Linked DNA regions of Homo sapiens: all the other regions are linked to region 2. Evidence: fine-mapped expression QTL. A gene starts in region 2. Each other region holds a variant in brackets. All regions are shown on one strand. Distances are from middle to middle. Region 1 has its middle 14 kb from the start of LEFTY1. Region 2 holds the start of TMEM63A (transmembrane protein 63A). Region 3 overlaps EPHX1 (epoxide hydrolase 1).

What was found. PIP is the estimated chance that this variant, and not a neighbour inherited with it, causes the effect.
Region 1: its variant is fine-mapped to the expression of TMEM63A in thyroid (GTEx, PIP 0.99).
Region 3: its variant is fine-mapped to the expression of TMEM63A in CD4 T cells (Kasela 2017, PIP 0.91).

What each region holds. Positions count from the first base shown.
Region 1 is chr1:225,898,937-225,907,158 of GRCh38, forward strand. No RefSeq gene overlaps it. Among named protein-coding and RNA genes, the nearest start is that of LEFTY1, 14 kb to the left of the region's middle. RefSeq lists enhancers at 384-1,146, 1,147-1,909, 7,500-8,222. The variant A/G (reference allele first, on the strand shown) is at 4,570.
Region 2 is chr1:225,879,050-225,887,271 of GRCh38, forward strand. TMEM63A (transmembrane protein 63A) reads right to left here and starts at 3,331. Exons shown (of 25, transcript NM_014698.3): 1 at 3,255-3,331; 2 at 171-361. LEFTY1 (left-right determination factor 1) reads right to left here. Exons shown (of 4, transcript NM_020997.4): 4 at 7,233-8,041. The coding sequence ends at 7,678. RefSeq lists enhancers at 937-1,887, 4,090-4,139, 4,200-4,249, 8,096-8,222 and silencers at 2,740-2,859, 3,420-3,579.
Region 3 is chr1:225,836,976-225,845,197 of GRCh38, forward strand. It overlaps EPHX1 (epoxide hydrolase 1), which reads left to right. Exons shown (of 9, transcript NM_001136018.4): 4 at 1,679-1,906; 5 at 2,242-2,371; 6 at 2,854-3,062; 7 at 5,391-5,499; 8 at 7,523-7,648; 9 at 8,171-8,222. It also overlaps a transcript of TMEM63A not described here. Among named protein-coding and RNA genes, the nearest start is that of EPHX1, 31 kb to the left of the region's middle. The variant A/G (reference allele first, on the strand shown) is at 4,881.

The DNA of each region.
Region 1 (8,222 bases), 20 kb after region 2:
GCACTCTCAGTAGTGTCTGCCCCTGCCCAGGGAGGGGACAAAAGCCACCCTGGAGACCCCAGATGCTGGGCTCCGAATTAGAAGCCACTCCACTCCTGGACTCTTAGCTTTGCTGACCTCAGAGCCTAGGCCTGAGTCCAGCTCATCCCCACCCATGGAGGCCCCACGATGACCTCTGACCTCTGTGTTTTCCCATGGCCCTCACCTGGCAACCTGGCCTCTGGTTGGAGTCACATCCTGGCCTATCAGGGGCAGGAGGGTGGCTGAGGGCACAGGGTCCCATTCCTCATCTGCCCTCCTACCTGGTCCTCCTCCTCCTCCCTGCATCATGTCCTCAAGTTCAGTCCCAGGGCTGGGCCCTCAGTGGGGGTGGTGAGCTTCCTCTCGTTCTCCCATTTCCTGCCCCCTGCTGCCCTCCAGGATGGCAGATGTGGCTTCAGGATGACTTCACAATTCCTGGCCTTTTGGGCCCTATCTGACCCTGCAGACCAGCCAGATCCCCCACCCCCACCCACCCACAGGCCTAGGAAGCCAGGCTCCTTCCTCTGCATGACAAAGGATGGGGCTGCCCTCCCTCCTGAGGATGCAACAGCCCATTGTAAACAGTCTCCCAATCCACATTCGCTTTCTTCTGGCTGATTGCCCAATTATTTTATTTCCCCAGCAAAACTCTTGAACCCATTGGAAATCCACATTCAGGAAAGAGGTCTCTGTTTGCAGAGGGATAATAGGTCTGGGGGCTTTGCCTTCAGTCTGCCCCTACTGATCTCCCTTGCCCTGGCCCACACCCAATCAGTCCTGTGAATTAATAGTGTCTTACCCTCTCTCCAACCCCTGGCCAGAAGGGTCCCAGGGTGTGAACTGCGTGTTACAAACAGCCAGAGGTCAAGAAAAGAGCCTGCTTCTCTTTTCTCCTCTATACCAAGTGCCACTTCACATGCCAGTCATTCACAGCTGCCTCCTGGGCTCCCACTGCCAGCCTGGCCTCTCCAATGGGCACCAGAATCATCTACCCGAATGCCCTTCCACTGCCACCTGTTCCCATCTCAGTACACCCAGCCAGGTCTCCAGACCTGGGGCTCATTCTGTTGTTTTTTGTTTTTGTTTTGTTTGGTTTTTGAGACAGAGTTTTGCTCTTGTTGCCCAGGCTGGAGTGCAATGGCATGATCTCAGCTCACTGCAACCTCCATCTCCGGAGTTCAAGAAATCCTCCTGCCTTAGCCTCTCAAGTAGCTGGGATTACAGGCGTGTGCCACCACACCTGGCTAATTTTATATTTTTGTAGAGGTGGGGTTTCACCATGTTGGTCTGGCTGGTCCCGAACTCCTCACTTCAGGCAATCTACCCACCTCGGCCTCCCAAACTGTTGGGATTACAGGCATGAGCCACTGCACCCAGCCCTGGGGCTTATTGTTGTTGTTGTTGTTGTTATTATTATTATTATTATATTATTATTATTATTATTATTATTATTTGAGACAGAGTCTTGCTCTGTTGCCCAGGCTGGAGTGCAATGGCGAGATATCGGCTCACTGCAACCTCCACCTCCCAGGTTCAAGCGATTCTCCTGCCTCAGCCTCCCAAGTAGCTGGGATGATAGGCGCATGCCACCACTCCTGGCTAATTTTTGTATTTTTAGTAGAGGTGGGGTTTCACCATGTTGGTCAGGCTGGTCTCGAACTCCTGACCTCAGGTGATCCACCGGCCTTGGCCTCCCAAAGTGCTGGGATTACAGGCATGAGCCACTGCACCTGGCCAGGGCTCATTCTTGAATACTTCCTATCCCACATCCCTCAGAGTCAGTCCCCAGCAGGTGTCTTGGTCTCACTTCGAAAACACATTTTATATCCATTCGTGACCCTCCATCACCTGCCAGGGCAACTGCAACTGCCTCCACCTGCTCGCATTCTCCATCCTCGGAGTCAACAGTGGTCTGTGACAAACTTTAATCAGAAAACATATTCCATTAATCAAAGCTCTCCAAAAATTAACTCAAAATGGATCATACACCTGCATGTAAAACACAAAACTATAAAACTCCAAAAAGAGAACATAGTAGAAAACATAGATCATCTTGAGTTTGGCAATGACATTTTTTGACCCATGAAAGGAATAATTGATATAAAGTTGGACTTCATTAAAATGAACCTCTGCTTTGCAAAAGACACTGTCATTCCCTCAGTTATACCTTTCAAGAAGAAAAAGAAATAGACACTGTCAAGAGAATGAGAAAAGCCGCAGTCAGGGAGAAAATATTTGGAAAAGACATATCTGATAAAGAACTGTTATTCAAAATATACAAATAACTCTTTTTTTCTGTGTTTTTTTGTTTGTTTGTTTTTTGAATTTTTGAAGCAGGGTCTTACAGGGTCTTACTCTGTTGCCCAGGCTGGAGTGCAGTGGCACAATCATGGCTCACTGCAGCCTCAACCACCTGAGCTCAAGTGATCCTCCTACCTCAGCCTCCCAAAGTGCTGGGATTACAGGGGTGCACCATTGTGCCCAGCTAATTTTTGTATTTTTTGTAGATGGGGTTCAGGCCCATGTTGAACTCCTGTCTCAGGTGATCCTCCTGCTTTGGCCTCCAAAAGTACTGGGATTACGGGTGTGAGTCACTGTGCCTGGCCTGAAGAACTTGTAAAGCTCAACAATAAGAAAACTAACCACCCAATTAAGAAATGGGCAAAAGACCTGGACAGATACCTCATCAAAGAAGATATACAGATGGCAAGAAAGCATATAAAAAGATGCTAACTGGCCAGGCACGGTGGCTCATGCCTGTAATCCCAGCACTTTGGTAGGCCGAGGTGGGTGGATCACCTGAGGCCAGGAGTTCGAGAGCAGCCCGGCCAACATGCCAAAACCCCATCTCTACTACAAATACAAAAAATTAGCCAGGTGTGGTGGTAGGCGCCTGTAATCCCAGCTACTTGGGAGGCTGAGGCAGGAGAATGGCTTGAACCCAGGAGGCGGAGGCTGTAGTGAGCCGAGATCACGCCATTGAACTCCAGCCTGGGTGACAAGAGCGAAACTCTGTCTCAAAAAAATAAAACAAAACAAAAAACAAAACCAAAAAAAGATGCTAACCATTGGCCGGGCGTGGTGGCTCAAGCCTGTAATCCCAGCACTTCGGGAGGCCAAGGCGGGCGGATCACGAGGTCAGGAGATTGAGACCATCCTGGCTAACACGGTGAAACCCCGTCTCTACTAAAAATACAAAAAAATTAGCCGGATATGGTGGCGGGCGCCTGTAATCCCAGCTACTCGGGAGGCTGAGGCAGGAGAATGGCGTGAACCCAGGAGTGGGAGCTAGCAGCAGTGAGCTGAGATGGCGCCACTGCACTCCCAGCCTGGGTGACAGAGCGAGACTCAGTCTCAAAAAAAAAAAAAAAAGAAAGATGCTAACCATCATTTGTCATTAAGGAATATGTCAGTGGGGAACAACAATGAACTATCACTACACAACTATTAGAATGGCCAAAATCCAAAACATGGACAACATCAAACACTGATGAAGTAACAGGCAGAGTAACAGAAACTCTCACTCGTTGCTGGTGGGTATGCAAAATGGCAGTCCCTTTGGAAGATAGTTTGGCAGTTTCTTACAAAACTAACCATACTTTTATCAAATGATCCAGCAATCACGCTCCTTGGTACTTACCAAGTACCATATGAGCTGGAAACTTATGTCCTCACAAGAACCTGCACGCAGATGTTGATGGTAGCTTTATTCATAATTGCCAAAACTTGGAAGATGTCCTTCATTGGGTGAATGGGTAAATAAACTGTGGTACATCCAAACAATGAAATATTATTCAATGCTAAAAAAAAAATGAGCTGTCAAGCCATGAAAAGACATGAAGGAATCTTAAATGCATACTACTAAGTGAAAGAAGTCAATCTGGAAAGGCCATATATATATGATTGCAACTATATGATATTCTGGAAAAGACAAAGCTATGGAGACAGTAAAAAAATGTGTGGTTTCCAGGGGCTAGAGAGGAGGAAGGGATGAACCGGCAGAGCACAGAGAATTTTTAGGGCAGTGAAACTACTCTGTGTGTTACTGTACTGGTAGACACATGCGTTTATACATTTGTTCAAACCATCAAATGTGCGCCAAGAGCCAACCCTAATGTAAACTCTGAACTCTGGGTTATAATCATGTGTCTGTGGCCGGGCGTGGTGGCTCATGCCTGTAATCCCAGCACTTTGGGAGGCCAAGGCGAGTGGATCACCTGAGGTCAGGAGTTTGAGACCAGCCTGGCCAACACAGTGAAACCCCATCTCTACTAAAAATACAAAAATTAGCTGGGTGTGGTGGTGGGCACCTGTAATCTCAACTACTCGGGAGGCTGAGGCAGGAGAATCCCTTGAACCCTGAAGGGCACAGAGGTTGCAGTGAGCCGAGGCTGTGCCACTGCACTCCAGCCTGGTGACAGAGCAAGACTCTGTCTCAAAAAACAAACAAACAAAAAAACAAACAAAATGATGTGTCTGTGTAGGTTTATCAAATTTAACAACTGTACCAGGCTGGTGGGGACATTGATAGTGGGGGAGTTTATACAT[A/G]TAGGGGGAGAGAGTATATAGGAATTTTTTGTGCTTTCCTCTCAATTTTGCTGTGAACCTAAAACTGCTCTAAAAAATAAAGTCTACTAGAGAAAAAAAACAAACCTCCAGTGACTTCTTATTACACGTTGGATAAAATTCAAATTTCTTCCCATGTCCTTAAAGCCCAGCTGACCTGGGCCAGGTTTGCCTGCTCCACCTCAGGTCCTACCTCTCCTCCTCTCCTCACTTGCTCCCTGAGAACAATGCACACAGGCCTCTTTACTCTCCCCAAACGTGACATGCCAGTTGCACCTCAGGGCCTTTGCACAAGCTGTTCTCTCTACTTGCAAGGGTCTGTGCCCAGATCTTTGCGTGTTAACTTGTTCTTATCATTCAGGATCGGATGTCACCTCCTCAGAAAGGCCTCTCTTATCCATGCATACATATCTACATGTTCCTTCCTGCCTCTACCAATTACTATCTCTCTTTATCATTCTGGTTTATCTTCCTCATAGTACTTAGTACTATCTAAGATTTTCTTCTCCACTTCTTTAACCATCTATTGACTGCCTCCCCGCTGGAGCGTTGCTTCCAGGAGCTCAGAAAATTTGTCTAACCTGTTTCCTGCTATGTCCCTGTGCCTAGAACAATGACCAGCACAATGAGGTATCATGGTAGACACTTCATCAATATTTGTCGAATGAATTAAAAGATGGGCATTCTCACTGTGCAAGCTTGGTGAACTCTGGATTTCAATTCTTTTGTAAAATGAGGTAGATAGACGAGATGATTCCTTTCAGCTCTAAATCACTAGGAGAGAGAAAAGGGGTGCTTGGGACTTCTCTCTGGATTAACCCCCATTGGTGCTAAATGCTGCCAGGCCTCTGCCAAGGAAGGTCTCCCAGGACTGAGAAGGGTAATCAGTTTCCCAACCAGAAGTCAGCTGTCCAGAGCCCTCTGAGCCCCAGGCCCATGCCTGCAGGCCGGATTGTTTCTCAGTCAGCAATCCTTGGTGTGGACTGGGAAGTTTCTGTGCCATCCAAGGCTCAGCTCTGGCAAGGAACAGGATTCAGAGTCCACACAGAACACCAGTTAGTTCTCCCCTCTTGGGCTGACCAGCATCTGCCGGCTGTGTCTTAATAAGAAGTGGGCTCCACTCCATCTCCTTCTCTGGAAATAAGCTATTATTTATTTATTTATTTATTTATTCATTCATTTATTTAGAGATGGAGTCTTGCTCTGTTGCCCAGGCTGGAGTGCAGTGGTGCAATCTGGGCTCACTGCAACATCCGCCTCCTGTGTTCAAGGGATTCTCCTGCCTCAGCCTCCCGAGTACCTGGGACTACAAGCGCCCACCACCATGCCCAGCTAATTTTTGTATTTTTAGTAGAGACGGGGTTTCACCATGTTGGCCAAGCTGGTCTTGAACTCCTGGCCTCAAGTGATCCACCCGCCTCAGCCCTGTAAAGTGCTAGGATTACAGGCGTGAGCCACCGCGCCTGGCTAGCTTTTAAGGGTTGGTTTCCCTAGACCCAGGGTGGAGGGCTCTGGCCACCCAGGAATTCCCAGAGCATCTTCTGACAGGAAGGCACCTAGTGCATTGTTCATGGACCTTCCTGTGAGGGGGCAGCACCAGTGGCCTGTCCTCCTCAGCCCAGTGACAGCAGGTCCTTGCTGAAACCAGCCCATGCTTCCAGCTCCAGGGAGCTCCCAGCGAGTCCAGATGTTGGGAGGTTGGGGAGGAGCACAGCTTGCAGTGTCAGACCAGGGAGACCCCTGGGGTGGAGTCTGGAGACCTGGATTTGGCAGGGCTTTGTCACCGACTCATAACCAAGACATTCTGCACCTTGGGTCTGAGGAACAGAGATCCTACAATTTCAAAAACAGTAAATGTCTCCAACCTTTCAGAGCAAGAAAGCTGCACAGTGTAACTGAGAAGGGAGGTGGATCAAGCTATTTGGGGGAAGCTAGGAAGAGGGTCCTTCCTCGCCCTGAGTCAAGGCCCATCCTTCTGGTCCCAGGGCCAGACCTTGCACTTGCCTGGACCCATGGCATAGATCAGGCAGGGTGGAGGGGGCACCATTCATTGAGGCAGGGAAGGGAGGACAGGCAGGTGCGGGAGTGGGGAGTGGAAAGAAGATTGGACAGGGACAGTCTGAAGAACTGATGGGAAGTCCAGGGGCCACATCCAGGACTCTGCAGAAGGTCAGATGTGGGGTCTTTGGCAGGAGGTAAGAGAGCAGGGAGAGTAGATGGCCAGGCACAGCTACAGAGGTACAAGAGCAGAGATGATACTGAGGGGAGCACAGAGGAAAAACTCTGGGAAATAACTAGTGGCTAGAGGTTTGGGGAGAGAAGGGGAAAGCCAGAGGGGACAGAAAAGAACTGAGAGAGGCAGGAAGAGACCCTCCCCACCCCACCCCTGGACAGCCACAGACTGGCGCTAGAATCAGGGACAGGGAGGTAAGGAGGATATTTTTATGCCGTTACAGAAAAAGATGAAAGCTCAGAAATGGAAGAGAGGTCGGAAAATTTGCAAAGCCACGCATGTGGGGTGAGGACTGCTCAGAGATCAGAGAGGCTTGGTGCTGGAAGGGACCTGAGAGGAAGCTTTGGTCCAACCGCTCATTTTAAAGAGAGAGAAACTGGGGCCTGCGGAGGTCACCCCACTGTAGATGGTGAGCCAGCCTGGAGTCAAGCATCTATAGGTTAGAGGATCTAACCATATCTCCAAGGTCCAGGCCTCATGGTGCCCCTGGAGCCCCTTGTTCTCCTTTGGGAGAACAAAAATCAAATTAAAAAGCTGATTATTTTCTGGCTCAGCCTGAGAGGCTCTGCTACCTTGGTTCTGTAATTAAAAATGAAATAATACATAAAGCGAAGGAGAGAGCTGGTCCCCAGGGCTGCCGTGGGACCAGCCCTCATTTTCCCACATAAGGCTTCAGCTTCCTGCCCTGGGTCTCCAAAAGCAGACGGTGATATGGGGGACAGGTTGAAGGCTGGCCACATCAACTTTCAGGCCAGGAAAGCCCCACCTCAGATCAAAGCCAAGGCTGCTGTGCCCCTGGGAGGGAGCATTATGTGAGCCTGTTTGTGGGTCAGCATTGACAGGGCAGGCCTGGGGAGGCCTGTGTGACTTGAGCATGAGCTGAGGGAGGCTGCAAGGGGATTGGACATGGCACAGGGCAGTGAGCTGTGTGGCCTTGGGCAGCCCATGACCCTCGCTGGACAACGGGGAATTTGACCTGCACCACGTTCGTGTCCCTCCAGGGTCTCTGGATCTAGACTAGGGCTGTTTCCGCTAATTAGGAATCATCTCGGGTGTGTGTTTTATTTCCACTTTCCATGTTTACTGTTGGTGTTTCCATAAGAAGTTTCCAAGATGTGTTAGTTTGGTGTCAAATAAAACAGAAGCATCCTATGGTGTGTGTGTGTGCGTGTGTGTGTGTGCACATGCGTGTGGGAGCATGTGTGGGTGTGTCCATGTGTAAGTGTGAGGCTGTGACTGTGGCAGTGTGTATGATCCCTTCCCGGACCACGAGCTGACTGAGGGCAGCACCGAGGCCAAGGCTGGCTCTGTGGCTGCCCCATGCCCACGGAGTAGGCTCCTGAGGGTCCTGTGACATGGTTTTGGATTTTGTTAATGAAAGATGCTGGTCCCTGGGAAGGTT
Region 2 (8,222 bases):
AGAGTCATGGGGCTGCTGACTCTGAACAGAGTGTCACAAGAGTGACCTCTGGAACACAGATGTTCTTGGCTTCCCTTTAAAATCCCCCAGTGGCACCACCCAATGGAACACACCAGCCCAACACTTCAAGGCCACCACCTACCCCTCCTCCTTCCTGTCCCCACACTTACCAGACACTAGGGGAAGGAAGGACTGTGGATGGGCCCGTTGGAGAGGTCCTCAGTTGGAGCTGTCTCTGGCAAAGGCAAAAGCAGCCCCAGCCACCTCCCAAGCTGCCAAGGGCCAGGCGTCGGGCCTAACACTCATGTCCTGCAGGGCTTTCCTGACCAGCGAGTCCTGGGGTACCAAACTGTAGACTTTCCTGAAGGATCACAGACACCAAGCATCACATGGGAGCCACCCTTTTCCAGTGTAGGGGTCTGGATGGAAACCCTCCAGCACACACCTGTGTATGCATGCTGCCCATATGGACCTTTAGGTTCTGCCCAGTGGGCTCCCTCCTGCCTTGATCTCTCCCCAAACTCCCAGAACTGGTTCTCCATCCATCAGTGCTCCTCTGTGCGACCCTACTCCTCCTTCCTCGGCCAGCACCACCTGTGGCCCCAGCCTCTCTCCTCTTTGCCAATGGCTCAGGGACCTGCTGGGTCTAGGGGAGCAGCCCTCTCCCACAGAAACCCTGGAGGTTGTGGGCTCACGGTAGGGCCCCAAGCAAAGGACTTCACCTGGGCCCCAAGGGCCAATGCTACTGGGGAGGCTCCCCAGGGTTCCCCAAGAGCTAGAATCAGGAAAAGGGAACACAGCAGCATGAACAAGGAAGGCTTGAAATGTGAAGTGGAAAGAAAAAACATCCCCATAAAATGCTCACAGAGAGAGCATTGTCCCTGGAAAGGGGAGGGTGCTGTGGTGGTGCTGGGAGTGGCATACCCTCGCCAGTGCTGCAGAGGAGAGAGGCCTCTGCGGAGGGAAACACCTGCGGCTCCTCTTCCCCCTCCCTCCAGCCCCAGTCATGCCTCTAAGTTACTTGTCTCTTGCCAAATAGGCTTCCCAGGGTGGTTTGACAAAGTTTGATATGAACTCAGGGAGGTGGCTAGCAAATACTATCAGCCTGAGACGGAGGTAAGGTCAGGTGGCCAGTCCTGTCTGCCCTCTCCGATGAGCACCCAGGTTAGGGTAGAGCTCTGGGGACCCACAATCTCTCTCAGACCTTTCAGCTCAGTCCCAGCCTGTCCCTGCCCATTAGACACATAAAGTCCAGATCCCCCTGAAACAGCTCCGTCCCTCTGGCTCTCCATGGGACAGCTCCTCTGCATTTTCACAAACAGGCACGCTCTGAGCAGGCAGCTGGGAACACAGACACCATGGGACAGTGCTGCCAGGCTGAGGAGAAGGCAGGGGGAGGGGAGCACCCAGCTGGCAGCTGTATAGAGGAGGCCAAACCAGCAGCTAGGCACTGTGGTTGAAGTGGCACTGCCTGGCTGAGAACCCCTGGCAATATTCAGTCATCCTAGATGTATGTGAATGCCTAGCACTTACCTGTGCCTTCCAGAAATTCTCCATTCATCCCCTTATTCCTACTCAATATGCCGAGGGTAGGAAAGCCAAGAATTACTGCTGAGGCCCAAGAGCCAGAGTGGGCAGCAGGTGACTTCACGCTCCCAACCCAAAGTTCAACCCATGTGCAGGCAAGCGTCTGATTGTGGCCAGTGGGAGAGGGCTAAATCCAACAGCTGGTCTAAATTTGCCAAAGTAAACTACCTATGCTAATCCACTGCCAGTCTCCATTGGCAGCAAGGACTGGCCTGGTGGTCAACTTGACAAGCTCTAGAAATACCAGCAGAATGTTGCAGGAAGTATATGGATATTGTTCGTTCTTGCAAGAAGGCCCGTACAAATTCAGGGTAATTTTATCATCACCAAATCTTTCAATCCTGTGATGACAATAGCGAAACTACAAGCAGCTCCAGGCCTTCTGCCTCAGGAGCTAACTCTGGTCTTTCAGATGCAGAATAAGGTTGCAAAGTAAAGTACAAACTTCTCCTTATGGCAACACCAAACAGGACCCAGTAACCTGGACAACTGTTTACCTCCTACCCTGGAGCACAAAGGAAATGACACAGCCCCTGGCTGAAACCAGAGGCAGTGTGGCTCAGGGATTATGTGAGCAGGCTCTGGAGTTAGGGTCTCAGCACCACGCAGTTCAGACAAGCAGCCTAACCACTCTGTGCCTTGGCTTCCTTCGCCAGGAAATGCGAGTGATGACTTTCTCTCACGGAGCTGTTGGGAGGCACAGATCCCAAACAACACCTGTAAAGCACTTAGCCCAGGACCCGGCCCTAGCAAGCAATTAGAAGCTGTCTGCCTTTATTTTAAGTCGCCCCTCCAGCTAATGGGAAACACAAGGGCAGGATCCCACCTGACGTCTTCTCTGTTAGAGCCCAACGAACAGCTAGGAGAGACCTTTGCCCCCACACTAAACAAAGGAGAGGGGCGTGTGAAGGGAAAAGGAGCCTCGGCTTCCGTTCATATCCCCCTTGAAGGCACAGCAGACTTGAGGATGACCTGAGAGGTGTCAAGGGAGGGTCAGTGGGTCCGCCACGCTGTCCACCCCTGCCCTTGAAGAGGACACCACCTGCCTGGGGCTGAATGACCAAGGCCCCTCCAGGGCCTCAGGTAGCTAGTCTTATCAGGTGCTGGAACCTTTGCGGATTTGGTTTCTTAGCAGAGCTCGCCTCACCCTTTCCGCCCCCGCCCTTCCCCCCAGTCCCCGAGTCCCCAGCCTCCCTCCTCAGGACTCCGCCAAGGCTGCAGGAAGTGGTCACCCAGGAACAGCCCGAGGGGTGGCCTCTGCCTTCCTGGCGTCAGGAGAGTCGGACGCTTGGCCCTTTCCCAGCCCGGCCTCGTATAGGGTCCGAGGAGCCCATAGCTGCACTCCTAGTTAGGTGGGAGGTCGGACTCCGCCGACAAATCCCAAAGAGAGGGGTGGGGAAGAAGGAGATACCAGCCCTGAAAGCGAAAAGCCGGAGAGGAAAGTCCTGAAAAGCCGCCAGGAATTCCCAAGGAGCGCAGGGCTGGAATGGAGGCGCTGCCCGGACCCTCTCCTCCCACCCAATCCCGCGTCGTCACCCCCTGCTTGGGGTCGGGGGCTCTGGGGTCTGCGTAGGCTGGGAGCCGTTCCGGAACCGGACACCTGGCGCGCACGTCCCGGGAAAGGCGGAGGGTGCATTGCCCCTCCTCACGCCCCCTGTCCCCTGTACCTGCGGCGGCGGCGTGTCTGGCGGGACCCAGCAGCGCGGGGCGTGTTCCGACCACTTAAAAGTTACAAAGTGAAACTCCGGCGCCTCCTGCACATGCGCAGAGCTGCGGCCACCCCTTTCCCAATTTGGAGTCTTGGCCCGCGGCGGCGCAAGCCTGTACGCAGCTGACTGCGCCTCCCGCGGTGGCCCTCGGCGGTCCTCTGCCCCGGCCTGGCCTCCTGGTCGCCGCTCAGCCCCGCAGCTCCTCCCGGAGGTCTGCAAGCCCCGGACCGGCCAGCTCACGTCCAGGCTCCAAGAAGGGATCCGCCGGGGCGCACCCTCTTCCGTCCCCCGGCACGAGCCCAGTCTCTGGACGCCTCCGGGAGAACTGGGCCAAGCACAGGGTGGTCGCGGCGCAGGGAGAGCATCTGCAAACGTTGGTCCCTGTAGTGCTTTGAATTTCCCCGAAGAGCTCTTAGACCCGCCCCGGGAGAGTGGGGTTGCGGGGGTGGTAGCATGGGGAGCTCAGCAGGATTCAGCCCGCACCTCGGCTCCGGGTAGTCGGGAACCGCGCGGAGCGCCCTGCAAGAGGCCACGGCTCCCCCGCCGCTGTAGAAGGCCGGACCGTGAAAGCCCGGAGGGTCTCCGTTCGGGCAAAAATGTGGGGGCGGGTCGCAGCATTTCCAACGCCCCCTGGGGCTAGTCCATTACTGCTCGAGCCAGGGCCGCCAAGGGCACCTACTCCAGCCCAGGTCCGAGAGCGCGGCATGCCTCCCGGCCGGGAGCCAAATGTTTCCAGGGAGCCGGTGGCCTCCACAACCGGACCGCAAGCTCGCGAGGGCAGGGCCGGCCCGCCGCGCCAGGGACTGCTGGGCGCTGCGCGGGAAGCGAGGCTGGGTTCGGGGAGGACCGCGCGCCCTGGGAATCAAGGAGCAAACCAACCCGTCCGCAGGCCCCTGTTTCCCTATCTGTGAAATGAGTGGTTGGACCAAAGCTTCCTCTCAGGTCCCTTCCAGCACCCCTCTCTGAGCTCTGAGCAGTCCTCACCCCACATGCATGCCTTTGCAGGTTCTCCGACCTCCCTTCCATTTCTGAGCTTTCATCTTTTTCTGTAACGGCATAAAAATATCCTCCTTATGGCCGGGCGCGGTGGCTCATGCCTGTAATACCAGCACTTTGGGAGGCCGAGGTGGGCGGATCACCTTAGGTCTGGAGTTCGAGACCAGCCTGACCCGCATGGAGAAACCCCGTCTCTACTAAAAATACAAAATTAGCCGGGTGTGGTGGCACATGCCTGTAATCCCAGCTACTAGGGAGTCTGAGGCAGGAGAATCGCTTGAACCTGGGAGGCGGAGGTTGCGGTGAGCTGAGATTTCACCATTGAACTCCAGCCTGGGCAACAAGAGCGAAACTCTGTCTCAAAAAAAAAAAAAAAAAAAAAAAAATTCCTCCTTACCTCCCTGTCCCTGATTCTAGCGCCAGTCTGTGGCTGTCCAGGAGTGGGGTGGGGAGGGTCTCTTCCTGCCTCTCTCAGTTCTTTTCTGTCCCATCTGTCTTTCCCCTTCTCTCCCCAAAGCTCTAGCCACTAGTTATTTTCCAGGGTTTTTCCTCTATGCCCCCCGCCAGTATCATCTCTGCCCTTGTCCCTCCATAGCTGCGCCTGGCCATCCCCCCTCCCTGCTCTCTTACCTCCACATCTGACGGTCTGCAGAGTCCTGGGTGTGGCCCCTGGACTCCCCGTTGGCTCCTTAGACTGTCCCTGTCCAATCTTTCTTCCACTCCCCACTCCCGCACCTGCCTGTCCTCCTTCCTTCCTCAATGAATGGTGCCCCCACCTGTCTGGTCTGTGCCATGGGTCCAGGCAAGTGCAAGGTTCCGGTCTTGGTAATTAGAATGCTGGAGCCACTGACAAAGATTTCAGAGAGAGAAAGGATTTCTAAATTTGTTCTTGAGTAGGTTAAGGTTATTTCAAAATCAAGAGAAGGCCTTGATGGATCGATATGTGAGTTGAGATAGCCACAGCCTTTGTTATGTCAGTTGTGTGAAGTGCTTGTAAAATCACTATTTTATTTTTTAATTTTTAATTAATTATTTACTTATTGAGACACAGTCTCACTCTGTCGCCCAGGCTGTAGTACAGTGGTGTGATCTCAGCTCACTGCAACCTCCACCTCCTGGCTTCAAGCGATTCTCCTGCCTCAGCCTCCCAAGTAGCTGGGATTATAGGCATGTGCCACCACACCCGGCTAATTTTGTACTTTTAGTAGAGACGGGGTTTCTCTATGTTGGTCAGGCTGGTCTCAAACTCCCAACCTCAGGTGATCCTCAGGATTATAGACGTGAGCCACCGCGCCCAGCTGCACAGCTCTTACAGCTATAAATTCCAGATCCTCTGAAGCTTTATTTTCTTCTCTAAGTATAGATGATAATTTTGATCACAGATTTTATTTTGATGCAAGTAGGATTGGAATAAAGCCCAGTCACTATGCCCAGGAAAGTCAAAGTGTCAAGAACAAAAAAATTTCAGTATTGGCCGGGCGCGGTGGCTCATGCCTGTAATCCCAGCACTTTGGGAGGCCGAGGTGGGCGGATCACAAGGTCAGGAGATAGAGACCATCCTGGCTAACATGGTGAAACCCCATCTCTACTAAAAATACAAAAAAATTAGCCGGGCGTGGTGGCGGGCACCTGTAGTCCCAGCTACTCGGGAGGCTAAGGCAGGAGAATGGCGTGAACCCATGAGGCGGAGCTTGCAGTAAGCGGAGATCGCGCCACTGCACTCCTGCCACTGTACTCCAGCCTGGGCGACTCCGTCTCAAAAAAAAAAAAAAAGAAATTTCTGTATCAATTCTGGGAGGGCAGGTACCATAGATTCTAGAATCAGAATGCATTTTATTTTTATTTATTTTATTTTTGAGACAGAATCTCACTCTATTGCCCAGGCTGGAGTGCAGTAGTGTGATCTCAGCTTACTGCAACCTCCGCCTCTTGGGTTTAAGCGATTCTCATGCCTCAGCCTCCCGAGTGGCTGGAATTATAGGCGCACACCACCATGCCCAGCTAATTTTTGTATTTTTAGTAGAAATGCACTCTCACCATGTTGGCCAGGCTGGTCTTGAACTCCTGGCCTCAAGTGATCCGCCCACCTCGGCCTCCCAAAGTGCTGGGATTACAGAAGTGAGCCATCGTGCTGGCCCTGAAAGCATTTTAATCCTAGTTTCATGTATTACCTAACCAAGATCTTTACCAAGTCTTGGCCAACTCAAGCTCCTTCCTTAGTTTTACAATCAGGTTGACCTAATCGCTGTAGAACTTTCTGCTCCTTCCTCAATTTGCAGAGCTTTGATTAAAATGGAAAATTACAGCCGGGCACAGTGGCTTGTGCCTGTAATCCCAGCCCTTTGGGAGACTGAGGCTGCCGAATGACTTGAGGTCAGGAGTTCCAGACCAGCCTGGGCAACATGGCAAAACCCCATCTCTACTAAAAATACAAAAAATTAGGCCAGGTGCAGTGGCTCACGCCTGTAATCCCAGCACTTTGGGAGGCCGAGGCAGGCGGATCACGAGGTCAGGAGGTTGAGACCATCCTGGTTAACACAGTGAAACCCTGTCTCTACTAAAAAATACAAAAAATTAGCCAGGCATGGTGGCAGGCACCTGTAGTCCCAGCTACTCGGGAGGCTGAGGCAGGAGAATGGTGTGAACCCGGGAGGCAGAGCTTGCAGTGAGCCAACATAGCGCCATCTGTACTCCAGCCTGGGCGACAGAGCTGTCTCAATAATAATAATAATAAAAATACAAAAAATTAGCTTGGCGTGGTGGTACATGCCTGTAATCCCAGTTACTCAAGATGCTGAGGCATGAGAATCGCTTGAACCTGGAAGGCAGAGGCTGCAGTGAGCCGAGATTGGGCCACTGCACTCCCGCCTGGGTGACAGAGTGAGACTCTGTCTCAAAAATAATTAATTAATTAAAATAAAATAGAAAATTACAAAATTATAGAATAAAATGTGTTTTATTCATGTTTTACAAAGTCTTTATTATCTGGATTGGGGATGCACAACCCACACTTAACCCCAGGTCTTAGGTCCAGAGTGGTGGTGGAGGACTTTAGCCCAGATCCAGTGACAGGACAAGTAAACAATGACACATTGGGCTTTCTGCCCTCAGGTTACAGTATCTCCACATGTAAGTGCTTAGAATATAGTGCAGTGAATAATAAGAATAGAGAAAACTGAGCAAGGGCTCTCCAGTGGCCAAAGATTCTCATTCCTGAGAAGCAAAAATTAGGTGAGGTAACTTGTCAGAGGAAGCAAATTCAGGGCTCACTAGAGAGCACAGAGCATTTGTCCATCAGCAGTTCAGTCATCGCCAGCTCTCCTGGTACCCTCGAACACTTCAGAAACACACACAAGTCAAGTCCCTCGATGGCTACACTAGGCGCCTATGGCTGGAGCCTCCTTGGCACGAGCGCACCATCCGAGGCACAGCTGCACTTCTGCACCCTCATGTTGGGCAGGCTGACCACCTGGGGCCTGGTCCTGCCTCCCTCCTTGATGCTGACGATCATGGGCAGCGAGTCAGTCTCCGAGGCGATGCACTGTCGAGGCCCCAGAAACGGCCACTTGAAGGCCAGGGCCTCCGGGGGCTGCCGGCAGGTGCCCACACACTCATAAGCCAGGAAGCCCGGGGGCTCCAGCACCCAGTTCTCGGCCCACTTCATCCCCTGCAGGTCAATGTACATCTCCTGGCGGCAGCAGCGGGTGCCCTCGGTCATTGGTGCTTCAGGGTCACAGTCGCCCTGAGCTCTGTGTGGGCAAAGAGAGCAGGGTCAGCGGTCAGCTGGGAGGGCTGAGGTCAGAGGGCGTCTGGGATGGAGATTTATGATCCACCTCTCAACTTCAAAAAGCTGGATGTTTGTGATATAGGATGGACAGCTAGAAATAACTTGAAAATTAATAACCGATATTTACTGAGGATCTCCTAAGA
Region 3 (8,222 bases), 42 kb before region 2:
ACTTTATAGTTAATAATATCTCAGTCTGGTTCGTTAATTGTAATAAATGTACCATGCTAACATAAAATATTAATAATGGAGGAAACCCGGTGGGTGTGAGGTATATGGGAGTTTTCTGGATTCTTTGCAGTTTTTCAGCAATCTAAAACTGTTCCAAAATAAAGTTTAGACAGACAACACCATGTTTTCTTTAGAGAGTGGGATTACATGTGAGTCTTCCCCCTTTGGCTTATCTGTGTTTTCTAAGTTTTCTACAGTAAACATGTATTATTTGTATAATATATTAACGACAGAACAGAACATTAGCTAGACCATGCTGACTGCACCAGCCCTGGTGGCAGAGAGTTCCAAGCATGGCAGCCGCCCTCACTGTGAATGCCGTAAGGCCCCAGGTGCTGTCCAGGGCACTGGCCTGGGAAGGGGCTGCCTTCTTTTGATATGCAGAGGCCCCAAGTCAGTCCAGAGGAGACAAGAATCCATTCACCTGCCCTTGGCTATGATGATGTTTTCAGCATTGCACTTAAAAAAAAATCTTCCACTTTATTTTATTTTAATTTTTTGAGATGGAGTCTTGCTCTGTTGCCCAGGCTGGAGTGTGGTGGTGTGATCTCGGCTCAGTGCAACCTCTGCTTCCCAGGTTCAAGCGATTCTCTTGCCTCAGCCTCCCGAGTAGCTGGAATTGCAGGCGCCTGTCAGCATGCCCGGGTAATTTTTTTGTATTTTTAGTAGAGACGGGGTTTCACCATGTTGGCCAGGCTGGTCTTGAGCTCCTGACCTTAGGTGATCCACCCGCCTCAGCCTTCCAAAGTGCTGGGATTACAGGCGTGAGCCACCACACCAGGCCCAAAAATACTCCACTTTAAAGAAAATATCATTTGGTAATCAGAAAAAGGTGACATTTTGTCAATGTGTATGAAAAAAATTATGCATTTAATACCTGTTCATTGTAGAAAAATTGGAAAGTACATAAAACTCAAAGAGAAATTAAAAGCACTGGAATCTACTGCTCAGGAGAACTGCTTTTTACATTCTTGGAGTTTATCCTCCCAGACTTTTAAAATTCACCAATACATAGTATAAGTACAGTATAAGCATAGATGACTTTTTATAAAAACTGGGTCACACAATGGATATGACTTGATCATTTGCTTTTACCTCCCAGCAATATCTTCTGATCAGTTTTCTATGTTAAATAAATATACATCTACCTTGTCAGTTTAGATGACTGTACTGGACTCCAGTATACTGTCAAACTATACTTGATTAATCCTGTATTGCTGGATACGTGGGGCTTTCTCCCTACCCTCCAGATTTTAAATTATTGAACAAGTATTTATGGAGGCCTGCTGTGAGCCAGGAGCTGTCCTGAGCCCTGGAAACCCAGCAGTGGCTGTACAGACCTGGCCCAGCTGTCAGGGGGCACCTCTAAGGAAACCGGGAGGCAATAATCGTAGCTCCCTTGCAGGGAGGTTGTGAAGGCTGAGTGAGGACATCTGTGCACCTGGAGCACAGTGTGAGTGTGAAACCAGTGTCAGCCCTTATTACTGTCAATACCATGAAGGGGCGGCGGGGGCACTAAGGGTGGCAGGACTCAATATCTAGGCTCTGGGGGGTGCCAGAGCCTGACCGTGCAGGGTCTTCTCTCTCCCTCCACCCTGACTGTGCTCTGTCCCCCCAGGGCTGGACATCCACTTCATCCACGTGAAGCCCCCCCAGCTGCCCGCAGGCCATACCCCGAAGCCCTTGCTGATGGTGCACGGCTGGCCCGGCTCTTTCTACGAGTTTTATAAGATCATCCCACTCCTGACTGACCCCAAGAACCATGGCCTGAGCGATGAGCACGTTTTTGAAGTCATCTGCCCTTCCATCCCTGGCTATGGCTTCTCAGAGGCATCCTCCAAGAAGGGTACGGGGCTGCTAGAGGTTCCATAACTGCCCCGTCCTCGCCAAGGGTGGGCCCGGTGTTCCCACCAGGCTCTCCTTCCGGCGGGGTGAGCAGGGAGTTGGCCCGAGGAAGCTGGGAAAGGAGGGGCCTGAGAGGCCGGCCCCAGACACACCGCCCTCCGGGGCTGGAGATGCCACCCCTATATTTGGGCTCCAGGATTCCTTCTTGCCTCTGTGAGCTTTTCTGACCTCCACCTGGGGGTAGGCGGGCCTGAGAAATTTCATAGAACACCAGAGGGCCCAAGGAGCAATCTGCCTGTGACTCCGTGACTCCATGCCTTTCCCCATCACTGCCAGGGTTCAACTCGGTGGCCACCGCCAGGATCTTTTACAAGCTGATGCTGCGGCTGGGCTTCCAGGAATTCTACATTCAAGGAGGGGACTGGGGGTCCCTGATCTGCACTAATATGGCCCAGCTGGTGCCCAGGTGAGGTCACTGTTGGGGTGGTGTGTGTGTGTGTGTGTGTGTGTGTGTGTGTGTGTCCTCTAAGAAGTGGACCTGTGTGCAGGGTGGGCCAAGGACCCCCCAGGGGAGAGGAGGGAGTGTGACCTGTCACTCAGCAGTGCCTGAGGCACGTTGACTTGGATCCTCCTGTCTGTAACCCAGGGTTGCGGCTCTGGGTCAGGTTCCCAGGCAGAGAAGGCCTGTGATAGGAGGGGAAGGTCAGGCATTAGACCTCTCTGCTGGACCAAGCTCTGGGATAGCCCTGAGCAGAACTCCCCAGAAACTGTATTTTTCCCCCAACCTCCCTTCTCCAACTCCCATGGCCTCCCCAGTGGGGCCAGTGCTGAAAGAGGCTGGCTCTGTGCTCGCTCCTCAGCCCTGAGGCCTGTTCCTCCGCCATCTCTCCTCTCTCCCTGTCCTTGACACCAGCCCAGCCTCACCCCGGCCCCTCTCTCTGCCTTCAGCCACGTGAAAGGCCTGCACTTGAACATGGCTTTGGTTTTAAGCAACTTCTCTACCCTGACCCTCCTCCTGGGACAGCGTTTCGGGAGGTTTCTTGGCCTCACTGAGAGGGATGTGGAGCTGCTGTACCCCGTCAAGGAGAAGGTATTCTACAGCCTGATGAGGGAGAGCGGCTACATGCACATCCAGTGCACCAAGCCTGACACCGTAGGTGAGTGTGCTCAGGGGTCCTCGCCCACTGCCGGCTCCACTGGGGCAGGGAGACACCCGCGGGGTAACCTCACCACCCCACCCCAATGCTGCCCACAGAAGGAAGCCTCTTGTAAGGACCTCCCAGCTCTTTAGATCTTTAAACTGCATTTTCCCATAGAATCAAGAGGATGGACCCTCAGCAGATTCCCAGGCCAATTTAGCAACTCTGTTTAGCCGACTCAGTATTCATAGTGGCTTTCACCCCTGATCTCCCACCCCTGAGTCTATATCCTACACTGAGAAGCAGAGGGATGGAGGGGGTGAGGTAGGAGGAATCCTGGGAGTGGGCAGCTCTGGGGCTGCAGGGGAGAGGGGAGAGGGTGCCCTGGGGCCTTGGGGAAGAGGTTCCCAGGCAGTGAGGGAGGGCCCAGCAACCATGTCTGCCACCAGGGTCCTGTTAAAGGACAATACTTTTTCAAAAAGGTAAATTTATAAAGGAACCAGTAAAATTTTAAAAAGAAACAATTCAAAGACAAATAAGAACACTGAAATTAATTTGCTAACAGACACAAAACTTGTCAACATCCACAGAGTAATATCAATTAAATCTCCATGGGACAAAATTCATTTGCCTCTATGAACAAGAGTCATTCGCATTACCCTCAGTTCTTTACAATTCACAGAACTGTAAAATAGCTCAATGACAAGGAAAGATGGGACCCCTGTAGCATCACGTCAGTCCGGAAGGTCTGCTAGGTAACTCCCTAGATCTTGTCCAGAAGACACCCAGGAATTGTCTTGCCCATCTCAAAGTTCTTCATAGTTTTCATGGCAAACCCATGCCCACACACACGAGGCAGCTCATAATCATAATAATGGCACTTTATAAAAGTCAGCATTTTTCTCTGATTATAAAATACATGTTGTCAAAAAGCTTAAAAATGCAAAAAGTACAAAACATTAAAGACAATCTCATATAACCTCTTCTCCCTCCCCACATCCCCTCTCCTTCAAAAGAACTTGTGAACATTTTGGTGAGAATTTTCACAAGTGAAGTACGTCCATATCACCAACATGGCCCCAACACTCCAGATGCCCCTCGGGGTTCTCTCCCAGGTACCACGCTCTGACTTCTGACTGAGATGGTTTTGATTGTGCCTGTTTAAGTCCTATGAATAGAATCACAGAGTATATACCCTTGAGTCTGGCTTCTTTTGCTCAATATTATGTTTGTGAGATTCATTTATGCCATTGTCCCAGCTTTATTTATTTATTTTTTCTCAAGACCCAGTCTGGCTCTGTTGCCCAGGGTAGAGTGCAGTGGTGTGATCTCAGCTCACTGCAACCTCCGCCTCCCAGGTTCAAGCAATTCTCCTGCCTCAGCCTCCCAAGTAGCTGGGATTACAGGCACCTGCCACCATGCCTGGCTAATGTTTTGTATTTTTAGTAGAGACGGGGTTTTACCATGTTGGCCAGGCTGGTCTCGAACTCCTGACCTCAGGTGATCCACCCGCCTCGGCCTCCCAAAGTGCTGGGATTACAGGTGTGAGCCACCGCACCCAGCCTGTCCCACTGTCCCAGCCTTTTTTTTTTTTTTTTTTGAGACAGAGTCTTGCTCTGTTGCCCAGGCTAGAGTGCAGTGGTACGATCTCGGCTCACTGCAACCTCCACCTCCCGGGTTCAAGCAATTTGCCTGCCTCAGCCTCCCAAGTAGCTGGGATTACAGGCATGCACCACCATGCCCTGCTAATTTTTTTGTATTTTTAATAGAGATGGGGTTTCACCATGTCAGCCAGGATAGTCTCGAACTCCTTACCGCAGGTGATCCACCTTTCTC[A/G]CCCTCCCAAAGTGCTGGGATTACAGGCATGAGCCAATGCCCCCAGCCTGTTCCAGCCATTTTTAATGACTGTACAGTATTTTGGCTTATGAGTATATCAATATTTGTAACTGATCCCCTATTTTAGACTTTTTTAGGTGGCTTCTCATTTTTCATGAATCAGAGCACATAGACTGAAAAACCCCGCCTTTTTAAAAACAGCACTTCTCATTGGGACCCCACCAAATGCAGAGGCGTAGGCCCTTCAGTTTGAAGGAAGCTGAGCAGGCAGTGTGCCAGGCCCTGGGAGACAGTGGGAAGGTATCGTCCCTGTTTATCAGATGAGGATGCCGAGGCAGAGTTAAGGAAGCGAGGCATGTGAGCACCCAGGAGTTAAGGCAGGCCTGTGCTCGAACGTGGCTTCCTGCACACAGCCCCGCCCTCTGCGGCCAGTGCCACACATCACACCTGAAGCTCCAGCTCTCTGGTCCCCAGGCCTGAGTCTCTCCCTTGCTCCCCGCTCCCCGCCAGGCTCTGCTCTGAATGACTCTCCTGTGGGTCTGGCTGCCTATATTCTAGAGAAGTTTTCCACCTGGACCAATACGGAATTCCGATACCTGGAGGATGGAGGCCTGGAAAGGTGAGGCCCTGGTTTGCCCCTGCAGTCATGACCCTGGTCCCAGCAGCCAACCTCCTCACCCTCTTCATCCCCTTGTCTGGTTGCTCTGCATGGGGCACTCAGCAAATTCTATTGTTGGCTTTCTTACAAATCCTCACCCTGTGACCAACGTAGCTGCATTTTTTGGGTGAGGTGGCCTGGTGGGTTGTTCCCAGCCTCACAGTGCATGGTCAAGACTAGGATGCAGGCTCACCTGCTTGTGCTCCTTTTGCTGAACAGGCCCCTCTGGGGATTAGGGAGCCCACAGGGCAGCAGGCACCACATTATTGTCAAGAGCACCTGGGCTTTTCCTCCTGATTCCCTGGAGAGCCTGGCATCAGGGTCACGTGACTGCGTGTTCCAGGAGGGTGGTCGCAGAAAGACAGGAGGCTGTTAATCTCTCAGAGCCTTAGAGGCTGTATCCTCTACATGCCTGACTCCCAGCTCTGTGGCCTGACTCAGGCTTCACCAAGGTCAGCTCTGACCCACCCTTTCCAGGGCCCATCCCTTTATTCCTTCAGTGACACACAGGACCAGACAGTGCTGGGGATGGGAAAGACAGTAAAATGAGACTGAATCCTGCCTTGGGGGTAGGGACTCTGTCTTGGCCATGCTGTAGCCCCATCACCTAGAACAATGCCGGGTGAACAGTGGGAGAGCCCAGTACATAGATGTTGAATGAATGCGCAAAGGACTGTGAGAGTCCAGTGGAAGGAGGATTCTTTGTCTAAGCGGCAGAGAGGGGAAATGACCAGGAGAATGTATCTGATTTGGGCCTTGGAGGATAAGTAGGAGTTTGCTGGATGGAGGAGAGAAACTTAGGCAAAGAGAAAAGCAATAAAAATGCAAGGAAAGGGTGCTTGGAAAGGGTGGCTTGTCCAGAGGCTGAAGCAGGTACACTGGGGCCAGATCAAAAGCAAACTCATTCCTGCAGGCAGGTCCTCACCTCCTCCAAGAGCCTCAGCAGGGCCTTCGTCTGGGATCTGTTTCCCCTGCCCTACATTCAGCAGGACACAGGGGTTGATGGAGCTTCTGCAAGACCACCTTGGCAGGGGGTCTGGCCTGCTCCTTGCACACGGATACCTGGAGCAAGATGTGAGGCCCCACCAGACTATCCCACTAGGCCACTCCTGCAGCTCTGGCCCCGGGTTACAGGGAGCACCAAATCCCTGAGCAGGAGGTAGACAGGATCAGATCTGTGTTCTAGAAAGAACAGGAATACACTAGGGTGGAAATGGTGGTCGTGGTCGTTTTCAAGCTGCGGGCAGAGCTGAAAGGGAGATGGAAGCACTTGGCCAACTTGCAGAAATCCAGTTCACAGAGGTGATGTGTATACTGGAACTAGTTTTCATTGACCAGTTTTCATTTTGCCACCAAAATCACATTGAAAAGGCTGTTCCCTTTATCTCTGTCCCTGCTCCCTGCTGCTGTTGCTAGAGATTCAGGGTTTGAGTGAGGAAGGTAGGGTTGGGAGGGCGTGCTCTGGGGAAAGTGGAAGGTGGGGTGGGGGCTGTGGAGTATGCATCCTGGACCCAAGCTGGCTAGGTTTGGATTCTCCACTTAATAAGTAAAATGGAGATAATAGTACCTATGTCCCATAGGCTGTTGAGAGGAAAACATGAATTAAAAGAAGGTAAGGAGCTTAGAACATGCTGCCTGGTATGTGGTCACCACAGTAGCTGGTGCCCTGAGCAGTTTCACGGTGCAGGGGTTGAGGGGAGGGAGGAGAGGTCAGTGGCAGGAGAGAGGGGACAGGTGTGTAGAGGCAAGGTGGGTGGGGGGAGGACCTTGGGGTGATAAGAGACACTTCAACTAAATCCATGCGCTCCAGTCTAGTGCCCTGGGCGCAGCCTGCCTGTGACACGAGGATACCACACACGTTGCATGAGGTCTGAGGAGGGAAGCCGCATGGGCAGGGCCTGGCATTTGTAGGACTTTCTGGCTGCCCTTTGTCACACAACTGCATGTGGCACTGAGAGTGGGGCTTTGTGTTCTGCGTTCCCAGGAAGTTCTCCCTGGACGACCTGCTGACCAACGTCATGCTCTACTGGACAACAGGCACCATCATCTCCTCCCAGCGCTTCTACAAGGAGAACCTGGGACAGGGCTGGATGACCCAGAAGCATGAGCGGTGAGCCTGGCTGAGCCGAGAACAGGGGCCTCTGAGGCTGGAGGCAGGGGGACGGCCAGTCTTGGGCTCCACGAAGGGCACTTGGTGGTGGGATAAGTATAGCCTTGCCTGCAGGTGCCCCAGGGGCCCTTGGATGGGAACACTAAAGGTCGAGGTGTTTGGAGAAAGCCCTCATGGAGGGACCAGGTGCCTGGCTCCCGGGCGGCCCTCAGTACCGCTCCCCAGTCTAGGATGCTGGTCTGGAGTGGCACTGATGGTTCTGGGATTTCCAAGTCTCACATGGAAACCCTCAAAGGTGGGGATTTAGAGGCTGTCCCATGCCCCTGCCTGGGTGGCCCTCCCAGAAAAGAGAAGGCCCTCAGTGAGGGGAGAGCGGTTGAGACCCTGGATTTGTCCTTTTCTTTATGGCTCCTTGTGGGTGGGCCAGCTGATCTCACCCCCAGGCGCTTTAACCCCCTGCTGTGCAGGACGGAGGGGCGCAGGGCCACAGCCTCACCCCTCCGTCGGCTCTTTCACTTCCAGGATGAAGGTCTATGTGCCCACTGGCTTCTCTGCCTTCCCTTTTGAGCTATTG